Linked DNA regions of Homo sapiens: region 2 is linked to region 1. Evidence: fine-mapped expression QTL. A gene starts in region 1. The other region holds a variant in brackets. All regions are shown on one strand. Distances are between the middles of the regions.

Region 1 (4,401 bases):
CTCTCAGTCCCGTATTTCCCTAGGCTAGCCATAGATATTAGGATCCCTATTCCTCAAGACAAGATGTAGAAACCAGAACCTCTATCCCCTAAAGCCAGCCATAAAAGCCTAAACATATTTTGCTAGTTTTCCCTCCCCCTTTTTCTGTAAAATCTGGCCATAAAGAAATTATCTGACCTGCCTTGTTTGACTGTAGGCTGTTAAGAGCTCCATTCCATTCCTGCCCTATACCCAGAAGGAAGGAATGGTGCTCAGAAGGCCAAGAAGAATCTAGACAGGCCTTGCTGGGTGTCCCCACTCAGTCTGTTAGCATTAGATTATACCATTTTTGTCCAATCACATTTCTACATAGCTGTCCATACTTTGTTGAACCTAAACACAAAAATGGACAATTTTCCAAGTATCTTTGGGTCTCCATTCTGAACGCTCCCATGTATACACATTAAATTTGTATGCCTTTTCTCCTATTAATTTTTTCTTCTATTAATCTGCCTTATGTCAGCGGTTTTCAGTTAACTTTCAGAGGGCCAAAACCTTTTGTCCCTCCAGGTAATGAAAATGTCCACATGACAAATAGTGAATTAGTAGGAGCTTCAGTTCTGCATAATTTAGAATTCACTGTTGAGCACCTCTATACGCATGCCATTATTGTACCTCGTCTTTGTGATCCTCATAACCTGTATTAGGCAACAGCTCATTTATATTGAGAAAACACCTAGGGCACAGCACCACTACTTTGTAGGCTACTTTAATATGTATGTGCATTATGCGAGGTTTTATGAGCTTATTTTCTGACACACTTGCTTTTCTCCAGTTTCCTCAGCTGAAAACAGCGATTCACTGTTACTGTATATATGCTAGGCTCAATGCTGGCGATAACAATTCCTGCAACATAGGGTCAGACAGGAGAAGAATGTTGTAATCTGCAAAGCCCTTCTGATTCTGGGAGTGAGGCCAGCATTAATACAACGCACGATTGTTACTTCTGAATGTCCCTTTGCAAAGAACAGTGTTTCTCAAACTTTTTTCTGACCAGATCTGCATACATTTTACATCGCCGCTGGCGATACATACGTGCAAAACACTGAAATCGAAATTTCTCTAAACAACTCCTTTACTACGTGATGTACTGTGAAACTTTTCTATTTTGTTCTATTCTCAATTTTATTAAAAACGGAGGGTGATGATCCCGATCTACCAAACCAATTTCACAATGCGCTAGAGATTATAACCCGCGGTTTGGAAAATACTGGCTTGGAAAAAGCTCTTTGATCTGTGTCATTCTCCTCACATCTCCCTACACCTCTGCGGAGTTCCGATTGTTTGGTTTCGTCCTGATAATCACTGTGCTGTGTTTTCCCTACACGCTCTGTGACGGGGCCGTCCGCCTCCTTCCTGGGCTCCTTTAAGAGGGTGGTAACGGTACATCACCGCGGGAGTGGAGAGGCAGGGCCCACTAGGTCGTCGCTGCAGGCCAGGCCCGCTCATCCAGTTATTGTGAAAGCCGGGGTGTGCGCGCGAAGAGTGGGAGGGTAGGGGTGAGGCAGGGGCAGCACTGACGCCTCGCAGGGCTGAGTAGCAACAGCTCCTCCGCGCCGCGTTTCCGGAGACCCTGAAGGAGTCCGCGCGTGCGCAGAGCGCGTCCCGGGAACTGTTCCGCCCACGGAGGCTGCCGAGCGCGCTCCCGCCGGGCCAAAGTACAAAGTGGGCTCCAGAGCGCGGGCGGCGCGGCGGCGCGAGCCAGGGGGCGGTCCTGCGCGGCCGGCCCCGCCCTCTGCTCTCCTCCCAGTCTCCCCCGCGCTGCGTGCAGTAAGGTAGCCGCCGCCGCCGCCGCCGCCGCGTCCCCTCGCCGGCTCGCTGGTACCGGCAGTGCCATGGCGGCCTTCAGCAAGTACTTGACGGCGCGAAACTCCTCGCTGGCTGGTGCCGCGTTCCTGCTGCTCTGCCTGCTCCACAAGCGGCGCCGCGCCCTCGGCCTGCACGGGTAAGAAGGCCCGTAGCCGTGCAGCTTTCCCGGGCTGGAGCGGGCGCTCCCCGCGCGCTCTCTCTCCCCACCCGGCCGACAGGTCTCTTTGCCCGACGGGGTCGGGCGGAGAGAGGGCCGACCGCGACTGCCGTGGGACTTCAATGTCAGGGTGTCCGCGAGTCCCCGCCACGACGGCGTCGGTCCCAGCTGGCCTGTCCGGCGACCTCGCTCCACCCCGGGAGTGCGAATTCTTCTGTGCCCGCGGGCGAACCGGCGCCCAGCCAGCACTCAGGCAGCGGCCTCCAGTTGGGGGTGGGAGGGGGATGCGGTGTGTCCCCCACCCCCTTCCCTACATCACCCCCTTCTGTGTCAACTTTCTGGGTGTGTTCTGGTTTTGCCATCTCATCTTCAGACCGTGAAGGATTTGTTTTGGGGACGTGGATGTGTGATTGAGGATGGGGATTGGATTCGCCAGGCTGGAGGCTGGTGTCTAAGTCACTTGGACGAGGTTTGGCTCGATTCCCGACTAACTGCTATTGAAAGTCGCGAGGGTGGCTTCTATGAAACTATTCCCGGTCCACTTGGCAGGATTGCCGTCTAAAGTGGTGAGCCCTTGGAGTCGGTGAACCCTTTGGTCGGTGAACATTTGGTCGGTGGCATTTCATCCGGAAAGGCTGGATCGGTTCTGTCGGACTTAGAGGGAAATGTTTTCCTTCCTGGGCTCTGTAGGTGAAAGATGAGAGTGTGGTTTAGGTGAGGATCAAGCTCCTTTTTAATGACACGCCACTGCTTCCACCGCGGGAGAATTTCAGTGCTTAGATTTAACTTTGGGAGGTTATCAGTTCAGAAAAAGTAAAAAAGAGAGAGCTGAATTACGGTTGCGACATACAGGTATGTATGTCACATACATGCAATTTTTATTTGCTGGACAAGTGAAAGAGAAAAGGCTACTTCCCAAGCGTTCTTGCCAGTCATTGAATATTTCGTATTAAATCTTGACATACTACTTTCATGAATTTTATTTCATTCATTCCTCTGAGCAGGTACTGTTGCCTCCCGTGTTTGATTTGCCTACAATATCTAATTAGTAGTAAAATTTGGGCTAAAACACAAATAGACTTCTAGTTTATAGTACCCTTTCCATTAAGTTCTTTCTAGCCGCCTTCTGTTTTTATCTTACTAGAGTCTGAAGTGATGATCTTTCTTTTCCTTCCTAAATCCATTTAACAGAGTTGAAAATGATTTGCAGCATAGTCTGGGCAATAACAGCGCTTACTCATTTTTCTTCTATTCAGTTTGCTTTTAAAAGGATTAATTTGGGAAAATAAAAAGCAAGTTTTTCTGTTGGTTTGTATGAACTCCCAGTTGCAAATAGAAGTTACCTGTTACCTGGGAACATGCCAGTAGAAAGAAGATGTTAGGTCCTTTAACTTGAATTCTGTTTTTGCAAAGAAGTGTTTCAGGGCATAGAACAGGTGTTTTAATATGGAGGAGGGGACTCGAGGACAGCCCTACAAGTTCTGGATTACTTTTATGATTATATGTATATGTGATATAGTATCACATACATGCCACATACATATAGTACACATAGAGCTTGAAGAATTTTTACAAGTAGAACACACTCGTGTAATCAGCACCCAGATCAAGAAACAGAACATTATCAGCACCCCAGAAATTCTCCTCATGCCCCCATCCAGTCACAGTCCACCTAACTACTAAACCAGTTTGTAAGACCATAGATTATTGCTAAGGGAAATTTTAAACAGAATCTATTGGGAAATAGTAGCGATAGAAGTAAAATAATGTAATAGAATTTGTCTTATTAAATAATTTTAGCTCCTCATTTGCCATTGTAAAATGCCTAAAAAAATTTTTTTTTGAGAAACTTTGTGAGCTTTTGTGGGGATTAAATTCTTTAGCAGGAGATGTACTGAACAAAAGATTATTATTAGTCTTTTGCATTGGGATGAGTGGGGAAAATCTCTATTTTACACAGTATTTTGTTGGAGGAGATTGCAGATTCTGAGCAGATAATCATGAAGTTTAAATTGTTGAGGTGAAATGATTGAACTATTTTGAAACCATTAAAAATGGTATTGAGTGTATTTTTGTAGATATTGTACTTCCAGAAGCTTACAAATATCTTTTAGTCACCACCTTTGGTATCACAGTTTGAAGATTAGAAGATTCTAACTTTATATTTGAGTGGGCTTTTGAATATCTTTGGTAACAGAACTGATTAATTTTAATATCTGGTGCTTAATTAAGGAAACTGTGGCTACTTGGCCTTCTTTTGTCTATGTTGTTAATAGTAGGTTGGTTTTAGAATATATATTCCCTTAGAATTGGATAGGTAATAGAGCTAGTAAAATCACTTTAAAAGTTACAGTGTAACATTATTCCAAACATTGGGAGAATGAGTAATTAAATGT
Region 2 (4,401 bases), 99 kb after region 1:
GCTTCAGTAGTGCCATTCTCACTATGTCAGTTCTTTTCAACTCAATGTGAAATGCTCAAAACCTGAAAGTAAACCCAGTTTAATTCTCTTTATTTTCTTTCCTCCTCCCTCCCTCCCTCCCTTCCTTTCTTCCTTCCTTTCTTTTCTTCTTTCCTTTCTGTCTTTCCCCCTTCCCTCTTTCCTTTCTTCTCTTCTTTCCTTCTTTTCCTTCCTAAATGATATAGAAATTTTAGGTAAAAGCAAGGATTTGAGAAAAATTGGAATAATGGTAAAGGTGCCTTGTTCCACAAAATACATACCTGATTAAGGACCTTTTTTTGCCAGATACTGAGCTAAGTGTCATGAGGGATGCAAATTAATTACAGTTTTTACCTTCAAGAACTTTAGGATGTAGATGATAGTCTACAAGTGATAAAATGAAGAGCATAGGATTTGAAGTCAGAGAGCCTGGGTTCAGGCACCAAAGTTTCTAGCCTCAGTTGCTTCCTTTGTATAATGAAGTTATTGAGCCTTACCTTCCTATCTCTTAGATTACCATGAAAATTAGACAGGTAGCCTATATGAAAGTACTTAATAAAATTCAGTGAAATTCTATATAACTGTGTGACTTTTAAAGATAGCTTTTATTATTTTATGGCATATTATAACTTGTCAATTTTTCATGAACTGAGCAGGAAATTGAATAACTAGAAATCAAAGGCATTTAAAATATAGCCAAGCCTTTATGTTTTCTCGGAAGTTCATAAGTATTATAGCCATAGGACATTGAGAGGAATTGAGAGCATTTGGGTTTCACCCTTCCTCTTCTTTTGGAGGTATAGACAAGTAGCAAAATAATCATCACGCCAGTGATCATGTGAAGGAGGGGAACACAACTAGAATGTGAGGGGCCAGGATAGCTAAGAAATAGTAATACAGAAAATGGAAACTCAGAAAGCTTTCTGAAAATAAGCCACTAAATAAAAACAGAAGGCTTTGTAACTGCTGTTGTGTCTTCAGAGGTTAGGATATATCGGCAGTTTTTATAGCTCTTTTTCCCCTCTACTAAATTAAAAACAAATAAAAAGCCTTAAGCTGGAGATTTCAAGCTGATTAGGAAATCAGGCTACAGGAAACAATACTGACTGACCTATGGAACAGTCTTGCATTTAGCACAGTTTAACCTACTGGTAGCTGAGATCCTTGGTCATGGAGTTACGGAAGCATTCTGATTTGTGGGATGCTTATAGATTTAGCTCCCTTAAAATAATGAGGAAGTCTGTATTTTACTTTTCATAAAAGACAGTACTATATTCACTCTTAGTTACTGACTTTTTTTCCCCCTTCTTTCCCATAGTACTACCTGCATATGGATGGCAGAGGCAACTATGAATTCAAACAGATAACAGAAGATACAGTTGAGTTTGGCTCTTAGAGAAATCTGGAGAACTATACCTGCTTCAGTGAAATAATTACAGAATATACTTAGAAAGGCAAAGTACATTGTAAAATAAAGTTGAGCTTAGTTTTTTTTAAAAAAAAAAACAAAGCAACAAATTAACTAGATACAGAATAATGGAGAACAAGTTGTTAAAACATTTAATATTATATAGGATATTGCTAATTGTGTATATGTTGGTTTAATTAATAATATGTACTAAGAATGTCCTTATTCTTGTGGTTAAAAACCTGCCTAAATTAAATTGGGCTTCAATCACTGTAACCTGATTCATCCTGGGATGTAAACCATTCGAAGTCAGCTAATTGGACTTTTATGGCTCTATCTTTTCCTTCAGTGAAGAACCCTATTTAAAACTGGGTCATCATTTGTCCTGTTCTAGCAAGATAGTCTTCAGTTTCATTTTCCTGTGCCCTGTGGTAGTTGGAAACAAATCATAATGTATTATTTAAATGTTTAACATCATTGCATAACAGCGTTTATTATACAGTGG[C/T]AGATTTCTTTAGCTGCCACAGTAATACTCATTCCTTGTGTGTGTCTTGGAGTGCATTTGACTCCAGGAAAAGCCATTTTGGTTTTCCTTAACTAAATGATAAATGTACCCCTCTCAGTCTGCAGTATTGAGTTGTTTAAAGTATATGTGCAGTCTTGCTTACAAGGAGGGGTTACCATGTATCACACCTAATCTTCCCAATGTTTGGGATATTAAAACACAAAGTCCTTAACATGCCAGGCTCAAGGTCTTATAAGAGTTCTAGATTTTTAAGAGAATTAGACAAATTTGTGTGTGTTAGAAGCCCATTCATTAGAAGTGTGGTGGTTATTTGGTATTAAACTCCAAATGAGCCATAGGAAGGCACTACATGAAATAATGCACTGAGTATGCAATGCTATCACTGTCTTTGACTGTGATTTTATGTTTAAAAAGTATGTTCTAAAATTATTATATATACATGGGTGAATTATGTTTCCGAGGCACTGTTTTATCTCTGTGAATCTTGAATAACTTTTTTATATTTGGGTTATGATGTCAAACGATCCTAAGCGAAGATGATTTCAGTTCATCAAATCATCATTAATGACTTTATGTATTATTTGCACAGGGAGAATTGAAACTGAGTATAATCAATAAGCTAGATACGAAATCAGTTTCTCAAACTGAGCTTCAGAAAGGGGCATTTTGTACTCTTGTTTTTGCATAACTGGTTTTGTTTTTTTGCAGAATTAACTATAACAATCACTGGCTACCGAAGTAAACTGATGTACTGAATTCCATAATACATAACATTCAATTTTTACCACTTCTGTTTAGCGAACTTGTATACTTATTTTCTGTTCAGATTAAAAAAAAAAAAAAAAAACTCAGATATCCTATACAACCTTTGCTTGTTCTTTTTATTCTGGTATCTAAATACTGAGAAGTTCATTTATAATTCAGCCTTGACTTGAAAACATAGATAGTTTAATCTTGACTTGAAAAACACAAAAATAAATTCAGAAAATGCTTTTAGCACAGTGTCTCTTTTTTAAAGTTTTGCCAAGTGTGGTTTTTAATTGAATGAATTTCTCTTTTAGAAAAGTTCAGTAAAATCTGTGTACCTGACAAATGCTACCAAACAGCCAGGAGACCTTAAAAGATACTATTCGTCTTGGAAAAGATTTTAAGGCATGGGAAAGTTTCAGATTTTCAGATTTCTGGGTTACCTTAAACCTACTCGTAGAAGTATTCTCCTAGCTGCCTTATAATTGCTTTTGTTATGATTCTTGCCATCAAAACAACAACAACAACAATTTGGGCTTTTTTTCTTAATTATTTTCTTTTTTATGTAACAAATATTACAGTGCCTCACCATTTGAGGCACAGAGGAAGATCCTTCTGGAGAATCACATTAACATAATAGTGGTTCTTCGAAGACCCACAGTAAAGAAATCCATTGGTTCAAAAACATGATTGACCACGGAACATCTTTTTCTACATAATTCCTATTAACACCTTCCAGAAACTGCAGTGGGAAATGGTAGTTTAATCCGAAGAATAAACCAAAGAATAAGAACTTTCATCCATGAGCACCACGCTGCATGCCAAGACATATCACCGTGTTCTCATAATAAGTTTTTACTTTTTATATAATGAGAAAATAAGTATGAAACAGCAATGGTAGTTTGTTTTGCATTAATAGAATAAAATATATCTAGCATTTGTCTCTTTCTCCCCTTTCTGAATGATTAACATTTGGCTTAAAACCGGTGATATGATAGCATCTGGCATTACTTTATGTAAAGTTTTAACTTTTAAATTTGGTGTTTAAAATCATAATTTGTGCTGAGAAGCAGAATGAATTTTCTTCTAACAGATGGACTTTGACATTGTTAGCTGCAGGAAGCTGTCTCTTTTTTTTTAAACCTACATTAGTGATTTTTCCTTTGTGAAGAATTGGAATGTTCTGACCATTTCCATATACATAACATATGCATGTCACTTTAAGAAAGTGCCAAAAAAACTGAAAAGCAATCCCCTCCAAACCTTAGGAGCAACGATTTTAAACTCTTCTAGTTGGTGTAATTGCATTTCATTTTTTTAAACAATATGCCTTTATAGCCATTTCTTGATTTATCAATTTTAGACATTCCCTACCACCTTTGTTTCTGCCACATCCCCTCATGTAGTTAAATCATTTTTTAAATTTGTAAACATTTTATTGTAGTATATGTACAAAAACATTGATAAATTTATAAGAAAGCATACACACTGGTAACCACACCCAAACACCAAATGAAATAGAACATTGTTACAGCACTAAAGGCTCCTTCTTGTTCTCTTCCAATTATTAGCTCCTGACTTCTATCACATAAATTGGTTTTGCCTGTTTCTGGACTTTATATATATTAGATACCCTTCTGTGTATGGCTTCTTTCCCTCAGTATTGTGAGGCTGATTGATCCATGGTAAGTGTGACCATAAT

Which allele goes with the higher level. Alleles are on the strand shown, and positions count from the first base shown. SD is a standard deviation of normalised expression in the study named.
With allele T in place of C in region 2, the expression in lung of the gene that starts at base 1,785 in region 1 is higher (small effect, 0.22 SD a copy in GTEx).

The links. PIP is the estimated chance that this variant, and not a neighbour inherited with it, causes the effect.
Region 2: its variant is the best candidate, but not a certain one, in a credible set for the expression of ABCD3 in lung (GTEx, PIP 0.73).

What each region holds. Positions count from the first base shown.
Region 1 is chr1:94,416,605-94,421,005 of GRCh38, forward strand. It overlaps ABCD3 (ATP binding cassette subfamily D member 3), which reads left to right and starts at 1,785. Exons shown (of 23, transcript NM_002858.4): 1 at 1,785-1,984. The coding sequence starts at 1,875. RefSeq lists enhancers at 974-1,765, 2,237-2,376 and a silencer at 1,527-1,906.
Region 2 is chr1:94,515,716-94,520,116 of GRCh38, forward strand. ABCD3 (ATP binding cassette subfamily D member 3) reads left to right here. Exons shown (of 23, transcript NM_002858.4): 23 at 1,337-2,948. The coding sequence ends at 1,414. Among named protein-coding and RNA genes, the nearest start is that of F3, 24 kb to the right of the region's middle. The variant C/T (reference allele first, on the strand shown) is at 1,932.